Linked DNA regions of Homo sapiens: region 2 is linked to region 1. The links come from fine-mapping of genetic effects on gene expression. A gene starts in region 1. The other region holds a variant in brackets. All regions are shown on one strand. Distances are from middle to middle. Region 1 holds the start of IVNS1ABP (influenza virus NS1A binding protein). Region 2 has its middle 99 kb from the start of CBSLR.

Evidence for each region. PIP is the estimated chance that this variant, and not a neighbour inherited with it, causes the effect.
Region 2: its variant is the best candidate, but not a certain one, in a credible set for the expression of IVNS1ABP in monocytes after LPS (Kim-Hellmuth 2017, PIP 0.51).

Annotation. Positions count from the first base shown.
Region 1 is chr1:185,314,990-185,319,382 of GRCh38, forward strand. IVNS1ABP (influenza virus NS1A binding protein) reads right to left here and starts at 2,254. Exons shown (of 15, transcript NM_006469.5): 1 at 1,964-2,254. CBSLR (CBS mRNA stabilizing lncRNA) reads left to right here and starts at 2,463. Exons shown (of 4, transcript XR_007066771.1): 1 at 2,463-3,288. RefSeq lists enhancers at 1,580-2,193, 2,843-2,942, 3,193-3,272 and silencers at 1,683-1,742, 2,203-2,512.
Region 2 is chr1:185,414,714-185,419,106 of GRCh38, forward strand. No RefSeq gene overlaps it. Among named protein-coding and RNA genes, the nearest start is that of CBSLR, 99 kb to the left of the region's middle. The variant G/A (reference allele first, on the strand shown) is at 1,771.

The sequences.
Region 1 (4,393 bases):
AGTTTACAAGTATGTATTTTCTGTTGTTTTAACAAAAACCCAGAAATCAATCTCTTACTCACAATACTTCAATCTACACACACACTAGCACATGCACATGACATGGTGGGAAGACCCCCAACCTTTAATAATTCCTACTTGCAGGATTTGACTATACAATCGCACTGCTAAAAAGTGGATGAAATGACTTACTTAGTGTTACTTCATCTTAATATCAATTAAGATACTTCCTTAACAGGAAAACATTTATATTTAAAAACGTATTTGCAAAACTACATTTAATTACCATCTAACAAATCCTTCAAGCAAGAAAAAATCCCACCTTCCAAAAGCAAGTAGCCAAAAAGACACTAATTTAAAACTAAGACTAAAACCTGAAATGTTTTGTCTTGGGGGGAAAGTTAGAAAATCAACTACAAATTAAGACAATGGCTATAGAAATTAGTATCTATTAGTTAACCAGAGATATCATCTATTAGGAAAACACAGAGGAAAACCATTCCAGGGCTCTCTTTGGTCAGTGGCTCAAGTTCCGTTTACCTCTGGCTACCAAATTATAAGCTTGATAAGCAGCCTGCCAGCTGGCGTTAAATGATACTAGTCTCAATTCAATTCTAAAGTCCATGTTTACCTCACGTCCAGACTTAACAAATACAACTACTCTTTCAGTATCTTTAAGACAGAAGTGTCAGCAGGCTTTAGCCTAAAAGTAATCATCAGTATTTTGTTTTTCCTAAATCAATCACTGGTGCTAGAATTATTAAAAGAAAGCATGGCCTGTGGCAGTCTAGTCCATGCTGTACTTATTCATCTGTTAAGAGTGGTACTAGGCTTCCAGAGTTGTCATCTATTAGTAGACAGAAGACCACGACACACTCAACGAACAGCTTGATGCCAAGGTGTTCTAACGCTCCATCACTGCACGCTCCATCACAAAAATGCGCCCTTTTGGACATCTGATTTCTCCTTGAAATGTCAGCTGTCTCAAACCAATAGATATGTCCACTACCTATTGGGGGAAAAAGTAAATGTAGTTCTCAAGTAGTGGTTCAAGTTACCCTAGGTTCAACCCTCAGCCTGATACCTTCCTATCATCAAGAGCTTATAATCAGAGACACTTAACCAAAAGCGTGGAGGGACGGAAAAAGAGCAAATCTTGCCACTGATTTCTTTCATAAAAAAGAAAGAGCGTCCCAGGCCTTCCTCCTCGCGCAGCCAGGCCGGCGCCCACTCCGCAGGCTGCGAGGCGAGGCCCCCAGCACCCGCACACCCCCGCCCCGGATTGGCCAGCCCCGCAGTCACTCAGTACCGACACGTCAGGGCAGCCGCTCCCTCCCTCCTCCCGCCCCCTTCTCCCCGCGCTTGGCAAGAAAAGCGGGCAACGTGGAGCGGGAACAAAGGACCCCGCGGCCCACGGCGATCGGGGACTCCGTGCCACCCTACTCCAGGCCCGGGGCTGGCTGCCCGCCCACACGAGCCGAGTCTCGAGAGCTCTTCCAGAAGAGAATCCCAAACCCCAGGCAAACCCGAGGCGAGGCGTCCGTTCCTGACAGCAAGAACGGGGAGTCCCGCGCCCTCCTTCCGGCGGGTCATCCCCGCCCGCGGCGCCCTAACCCAGGCCCCCCAAAACCCTTCGAACAAAAAACTCTTGTTCCTCCCAGCCTGCCTCACCCGCGCCAGTGTAGCAAAGGGGCTCCAGCCTCCGCGCTCTCCGAGGCGACCGGCGCCCGCTCTCGGCCGCCAACGCAACTTGGCAACCATGGCAGCGCTGGAGCGCGGGCCCAGCGCGGCGCGGGCTTCACGTCCCAGAGGGCGGCGGCGGCCGCTTGGGGCTGCCTCCCCTGATGAGGACACCGCTTCCGCGCCTCCCACCCTCTTCCCATCCGCCGGCGCCATCCCTTCTTCTCGGATTCTAGCCGCGCCGTCTCCCTCATCTGTCGTTCGTAGAACCAGCGCGTATTACCTGGTTCATCTCTGAAGAGATGGAAACATTCATTTCTAGAGCTTCGATGGGAAGCAGGAGGAAGCGGGCGGGAATCGGCCCAACGGAAAGCGCCAGAAGGCGGCGGAAGACGGGAGCGGTCAAGTAGAAGGACGAGGGGCCAGTCCGTGGAGACTGAAAGGAAGGGGGAGCGCCACCGAGAACTCGCGGGAACTCGCTCGCTCGCCGATACAGCCGCGCCGAAGCAGCAGGCGGAGAAACTGCGCCCAGCAGCTCTGAGCGACCGACCTCCACGCGCGACCGGGAGACACTGCCTCCGCCGCCGCCGACCGCTCGCGCCGCACCCCCTCGCACGTCACCACGTGCGCTGCCGCCGCCGACGCCTCCCAGCCCGCTTCCGTCTCGAATCCATCTGCAAATCACAGGCGAGCTCCATAAAGATCCCACTCTAAGCCCCGCCCCACCCGCGGCCCCGCCCACATCCCGCCCCGCCTTCCTCCCTGGTCTACTGGGGTTCCTTCCTTCTCGGTGTAACTAGGTCAGCGCAAGGTGATCCTGAGGAGATAGGCGGCGCTCGGGGGGCGCCCTCGTTCCTCTTATCGCGCCTTTGTCCCTCCCTCCGTTCCTTGCCCCGCACCCTCACTTTCGCCGCCCTGTGCGTTGCCTGTCCCGGAACTGGTTCCCTCAAGCCGCCCTCACCTGTTCTGACTTCCCCTCGAGGCACAATAGCCTGAGAGATCAGACGTGGGAGATTAGATTGCTCGGCGTCAGACCTACTTCTAGGCAACCCCCCCTAGACTGGAGCTGCTCGTCGTGGACATTAGGATCTAGTTGGGCATGAGCCCTTAACTTAAGGGTCGGGGGGGAAGTGGCGGGTGCGGAGAGGAGGCGTGGAGAGTGTGAGGAAGAAGAGAGGCACTCTGAGAAGAAGTCGAACAACTAACCCCTCATTTGGCCTGGTTTGGGTGAGAAGATTGAGTCACTTGGGGAAAAAAATATTGGAGAAGTCAGAGAAGGTGTAAATCAGTGGTGCCACAAACACCAGTTTACTTCCACTTTTCACCCCCCGGGTCTGTTTTGTCTGCGTGCAGCTCTCCTCGTGTCGGAGACGCTGAGTCAGTTCTCTACTGGTCTTGCCCTCTTCCGGAAAAAGAAAACACACCTGAGAAGTGGTAGTTCCTATCCTAACCTACTGGGGCCCTTTATACCAGGTGCCAAACTTCATTATCCACCCCACCACCTTGCCCGGGAGGGAGATCTGTGAAAGCGAAACGTGATTTAAGCTGGGATCTGGCAGCAACTTCGTGGACTCTGAAGGGCACGTGGGAAAGGAGTTTTGATTGAAGGTGAGGGATTTAGTGAGGTAAAATTATATCCAAATTAGAGTTTGGTAAAGGCTTCCAGGTTAATGTCCTGTTAACGCTTATCCTGATTTGTGGAGGACACTTAAGCTGTCTAGGCCTAACCTTGTGTTTGATCACTCACCTTAATTTGTAGACATTCTAGGAGCTCTTTGTCAATGCCTCTTACCATTTTTATCATTAACTATTTATGCTTATAGAAGCAGGAAAAATAAATTGTGGGAGCCTTCATCTGCAATAGGTTTACAACTTTTTTTCTAAAATCTTGAGGCAAGGAGACTTATTCCCCCGCCCCTTTTTTTCTCACAGATTTCTTGTATGTCTCCCTCGCCCCGCCCGCACCCCGTCCCCCCGCCCCCGGACAATTAATTGTAGGAGGAAACAAGAACTAAGATGTCTATTCGAGTGATTTTTTATATCTTTCTTAAGGAGAAAAAGACTGACATTTGACACTGTGCTCTTGTTTTGTCTTGCTGATAATAACTGACAGCAATGTTTACTTTTCTTACAAATGAAACTATCAGGGTACGTACTTTTAAGCTCTTTAATACAATGGGTTTCATCCTTCCAGTGGGAGAGTATGAATTGCCCACTCTGCGTAGACACATGACTGCTGGCCTGTTGGACACATGGTCACACTTGCTATACTCTAAATAGTGTCTTTGTGACCTGAAACAGTCAACACTTTTCTTAAAGCTACAGTGTGCCCACACTCATTGTATTTTTGCTTTGTATGGAATTTCAAATTTACTTATTACCTTCTCTATGAATAATAGCATAACTTATGCATTCCATTTATGCCTTTCAGGGAACCTGATGGTTAATTTCTACCTCTTAAAGTAACACATTATGTTGTAAGATTTTGCTCTTAATATAGCAGTCCCCCTTATCCTTGGTTTCACTTTCCAAGATTTTGTCAACCATGGCCCAAAAATGTTACATCACTACTCTTGCATTTGGGGGGTATTATTACATAAAATGATAGTTATATGAACACAAGCACTGTCACACTGCAACAGTCTGACAACCCAGACAGCAACTGGCTAATGGCAATCTGGGCAGGGACAGAGCAGACTGTGCTCCTCAGAAT
Region 2 (4,393 bases), 100 kb after region 1:
ACCGGCTTTCTGAAGGTCCCTTTACCAAGCAATGCTATAAGTGATTACATTGTGACAACCATAAATATACATTTGTAGGATGAATAGAACAAAAAATTATTTTAGTGTTTTGTAAATAGTACTTGTGGCTTGGGATGAAAATTGCAATGGCAGCATCATGGTTTAAAATAAAACAAATTAGATGGAAGAGAAGATTATGTCTGGAAAACTATCAGATGCCTAAAAACATGTCTCATGAAATGGAAGACACTTGTCACTAGACACACAGATGGCAACTTTAAATCAGACACCTTCATGGGATGGAAAAGTGGAAGAATATTTCTAAATTGAATTATTTTATACAATGTGACTTTAAATATGTATACTTAATTAAATTAATAAATTAAACATTGAAATTAGGTACATAACTATTTCATCTATCTTCCTAAAGGCTTATATTTGAGTTGGTCCACATTATTAAAAAATTTTTTTTCTCTTTGGGAAAGTAACCTTATGTTAGTGTTACTTTTTATTCCTGTATGCTTTTATAACAAGAGCAAAATCAAAAGCACAAACTTGCTATGCCTTCCAGGGAATCTTAAAATTTAATAGGAATTATGCTTTTATGTAAGCCATTAAACTGTAATGATGAAATCCCAGGCATCAGCTAGTGGATGGGGAAGGTATTTAGGGAGACAGTCTGGTCTCCGTGCCCTTAGAATCACTAACTTAGACAAGGCCATTTGCTTAGCCCTGAGTGAGGCTGGCTTTGTCGGGGAAGATTCCATCCAGGAACATTTCTTGGAGAAGTGACTTTGGAGCTCAATTTGCAAGTAGGAAGTGGACATATTAGAAAAGAAGGAATAAAAAGACATGTGAGTGACCTACTGCTGCTTTACAAACCACCCCAAAGCTTAAAGGCTTAAAACCACAGTCATTTATTCGTTACCATTCTTTGGCTTGGCAATTTGGGCAGAGCACAGCTAGGATGGCTCATTTCTACTCTGTATCTGTTTGCAGTTGTTGATGGGTTGGTCCATCATAGATGGCCTCTCTGTCCGCCTGGGACCTGGGGAGAGAGTCCTGTAATGGCTGGATGGCTGGGTCTCTTTCTCCATGTGGTACCTCTCATCCTTAACAAAGGACTTGTTCACAGACAGCATTATTCAAAGAAGGCGAAAGTGGAAGCTACAGGGCCTCTGGAAGCCAAACCTTGGTAGTCATATGATATTGCTTCTGCCATATCCTATTGCTCAAAACAAGTCACAAAATCAGCCCAGATCCCAGGGAGTGGGGAAATAGATTCTGCCTTTTGATGGGAAGAGCTTTAAAGAATTCGTGGCCAGATTTATCTCAACATAGGGCATTTCCAATGGGGAGAACAGCTTCTGGAAGGGAATAGAGGTAGGAATACATGAAAGTTGTAGTAGGAATTTTAGAGTCTAGCCTGATTTAAATAGAGGAGGCTTGTTGATGAGCAGCTTGAAATGAAACTGGGTATGCAGCCTAAGAGGCCCAAACACTGTAAACTTGGGACCAGGACTTTGAAGTAAGGGTTAGCAAAGCTCATTGTGGATCCCAGATCACAGCCTCAGAGTTCCTTTTAATTCATCTTCTGTATTGTACTGTATTGTATTGTATTGTATTGTATTGTATTGTATTGTATTGTATTGTATTGTATTGTATTGTATTGTAATTGTATTGTATTATTTATTGAGACGGAGTCTCACTCTGTTGCCCAGGCTGGAGTGCAGTGGTGCGATCTCGGCTAACTGCAACTTTTGCCTCCTG[G/A]GTTCAAGTGATTCTCCTGCCTCAGCCTCTCATGTAGCTGAGATTACAGGCATGCACCACCATGCCTAGATAATTTTTTGTAGTTTTAGTAGAGACGGGGTCTCACCATGTTGCCAGCCTGGTCTCAAACTCCTGATCTCAGGTGATCTGCCTGCCTCGGCTTCCCAAAGTGCTGGGATTACAGGTGTGAGCCACTGCACCCCGCCTGTTTTTATTTTTTAAACAATTTTTGCTTTGACATCTTGGAAGACTCTGTTTCAGTAAAGTATACCATATCCAGGAATGGATTTTATCAATGCCTTTGTGGACTTTCAGAAGACAGAAGAGCACAGAGGCAGGAAAGGACAGTGGTTACGTGCCTGAACTCTGGAGCCAGACAGACCTTGGTTCAAATCCTGTCTTCACCACTATGAAGCCACATAACATTTGGCAAGTCACATAACCTCTTTAAGCTTTGGTTTTCTCCAATGTAACATGGGACTAAAATTATACCTACTTCACAGGAATGGTTGTGAGGATAGATAGTACACTTAGGGATTTGTAAGCATTGAACATATAAGTGCTCAGTTAGTGTCACCTGTGATTATTACCTTTGGATTTTCCTTTTTCATCTGTAAAATGGGTTACTGCTGCTGGAATTCCTGGGTCTTATTCTTAAAATGGCTAATGAAATTCTACATCAAGGAATTTGAAAAGATTAAGGACTATGTCCCCTTTTGTTCTTATTGTTCCCTTAGTGTTCTTATGATCTGTATACAAAAAAGTCTGTTCCAAAGCTAATTGCTACTCTCTACTGAGAGAAGACCAACCTCACAGCAAGTTGCAGTGTTGATGTGTTAAAGAAAAAAATACATTTATTATCTAATTGAATATATTATATAAGATGAATTAGGATGTTGGAATGTGCTTAGTTTTAAGCATGCACCTTTTCCCTATTTAACAAATATTTTGAAATCTCCCACTGTGTTATATGCCCTATGCCAGGTATTAGAGATATAACGATAAATGAAATCAACATTGTTGCTCTCAAGAGCTGCTTTTAATACTCTGCATTAAATAAGGTCTCAGTAAAAATATACATGATTTTTCACCCCAGGGAATATTCATGAATAGATCACTTAAGTTTTTGTTCTCAATCCTGGGCCATTGTTCATATTAACTTAATGGAAGTAATTTGATATGTTTTGGGGAATAATCACAATTATTTTATAGACAATTCTAGAGCCAATCCTAAGTCTGGTCCACCTGTCTGGCAAGTAAAGTGAAAACTCTATTGTAGTAGTGTAGAGCTTCCCTAAGTCCCTCACCTGGGGAAAAAGCCTTTTCCAAGGCTGTTTACACCTCTCATAGTTTTGATGGCACAAAAACATCAAGTAAGGAAGACTTTTAACCATAGGTACATTCTTTAAAAAAATTAATATACAATAATCCACATACAACCAATGCCTCACACACCATGTTAATTGGAACTGACATCCTTTTTTGTAGTCAGGGTTTTCACATCTCTACAAAATAAATAACTATTTACTCAATAAATAGAAAGCTTATAAGGGGGCCCAGTTTAGGTATGAGGAGACCGCAAACTTAAGCTAAGTGATAATGAAACATAAACCATTTGGTAGACTATGGAACTAGGTTCAGGAGAAACACATGCTGTGTTCCGGCTTCAGTTCTGTTGCAGGCAAGTGGCTGATACCTGACTGAGGATGCATCTTGGCCCCAGAGTGGAGGTCACGACCAGACCAAAGTGCTCTCCATCTTCATTATTCCATTCAGAGCATCTGGACAATGCCAAGAAAGCTCCTGGCCTCTTTGCTGTCTCCAGCTATGCTAACTTCCTAAGGTTCTACTCAGAAGCATACATTTTCTCCTCCTCTCCCCTGCTCTCAATTTTCCTCTGTAACTCTCCCTTTAACCATTTCCCAAAAAAATCAATGAAGCAGTCATGTTGTCTTATGTTATATGTGTTAATTACAATCCCTAAAGAAGGAAACAAAAAGTATTGACACATAACTCATTTTGGGGCAGAAAAAAAGCAATGTTGTTTTCTTTTTTTCCGGGTATAGTGAACAGGGTAGCATCTAATCTACTGTCAATTAACTATAAACATGCTCATTCCAGCACTTTAAAACAGAATCCCTCCAGAAAACAGAAATACATTTTTAATGGAGCCACCTGTGCCTCAAGGCCCCTGAGAACTTTAACAAGGATCAGCCCATGAAAATAGTTGCCATAAGCATGTATAATAAATTAAACATGAATTTTAAATTATTCATTACCTTCCTGAGGGATTGTGATGCTGTAGGGATAATGAAAATGCAATGTTAATAAGCAATCAGTTGTAATTTTAAAAAGGAGGTGAAAAAGAAGGGTCCATCTACATTTCACTTTTGCTGAAGAATGAGTTAAAAGGACAGCTTTAAATTAGCACTAATTAATGTAAACTTGCAACGAAAGCTATTACTTTATTTTATTTTATGATTTTTATTTTTTATTTTTTGAGACAGAGTCTCGCTCTGTTGCCCAGGCTGGAGTGCACTGGTGTGATCATGGCTCACTGCAACCTCAACCTCCTGGGCTCAAGGAGTTCTCCTGCCTCAGCCTCCCAGATAGCTGGGACCAC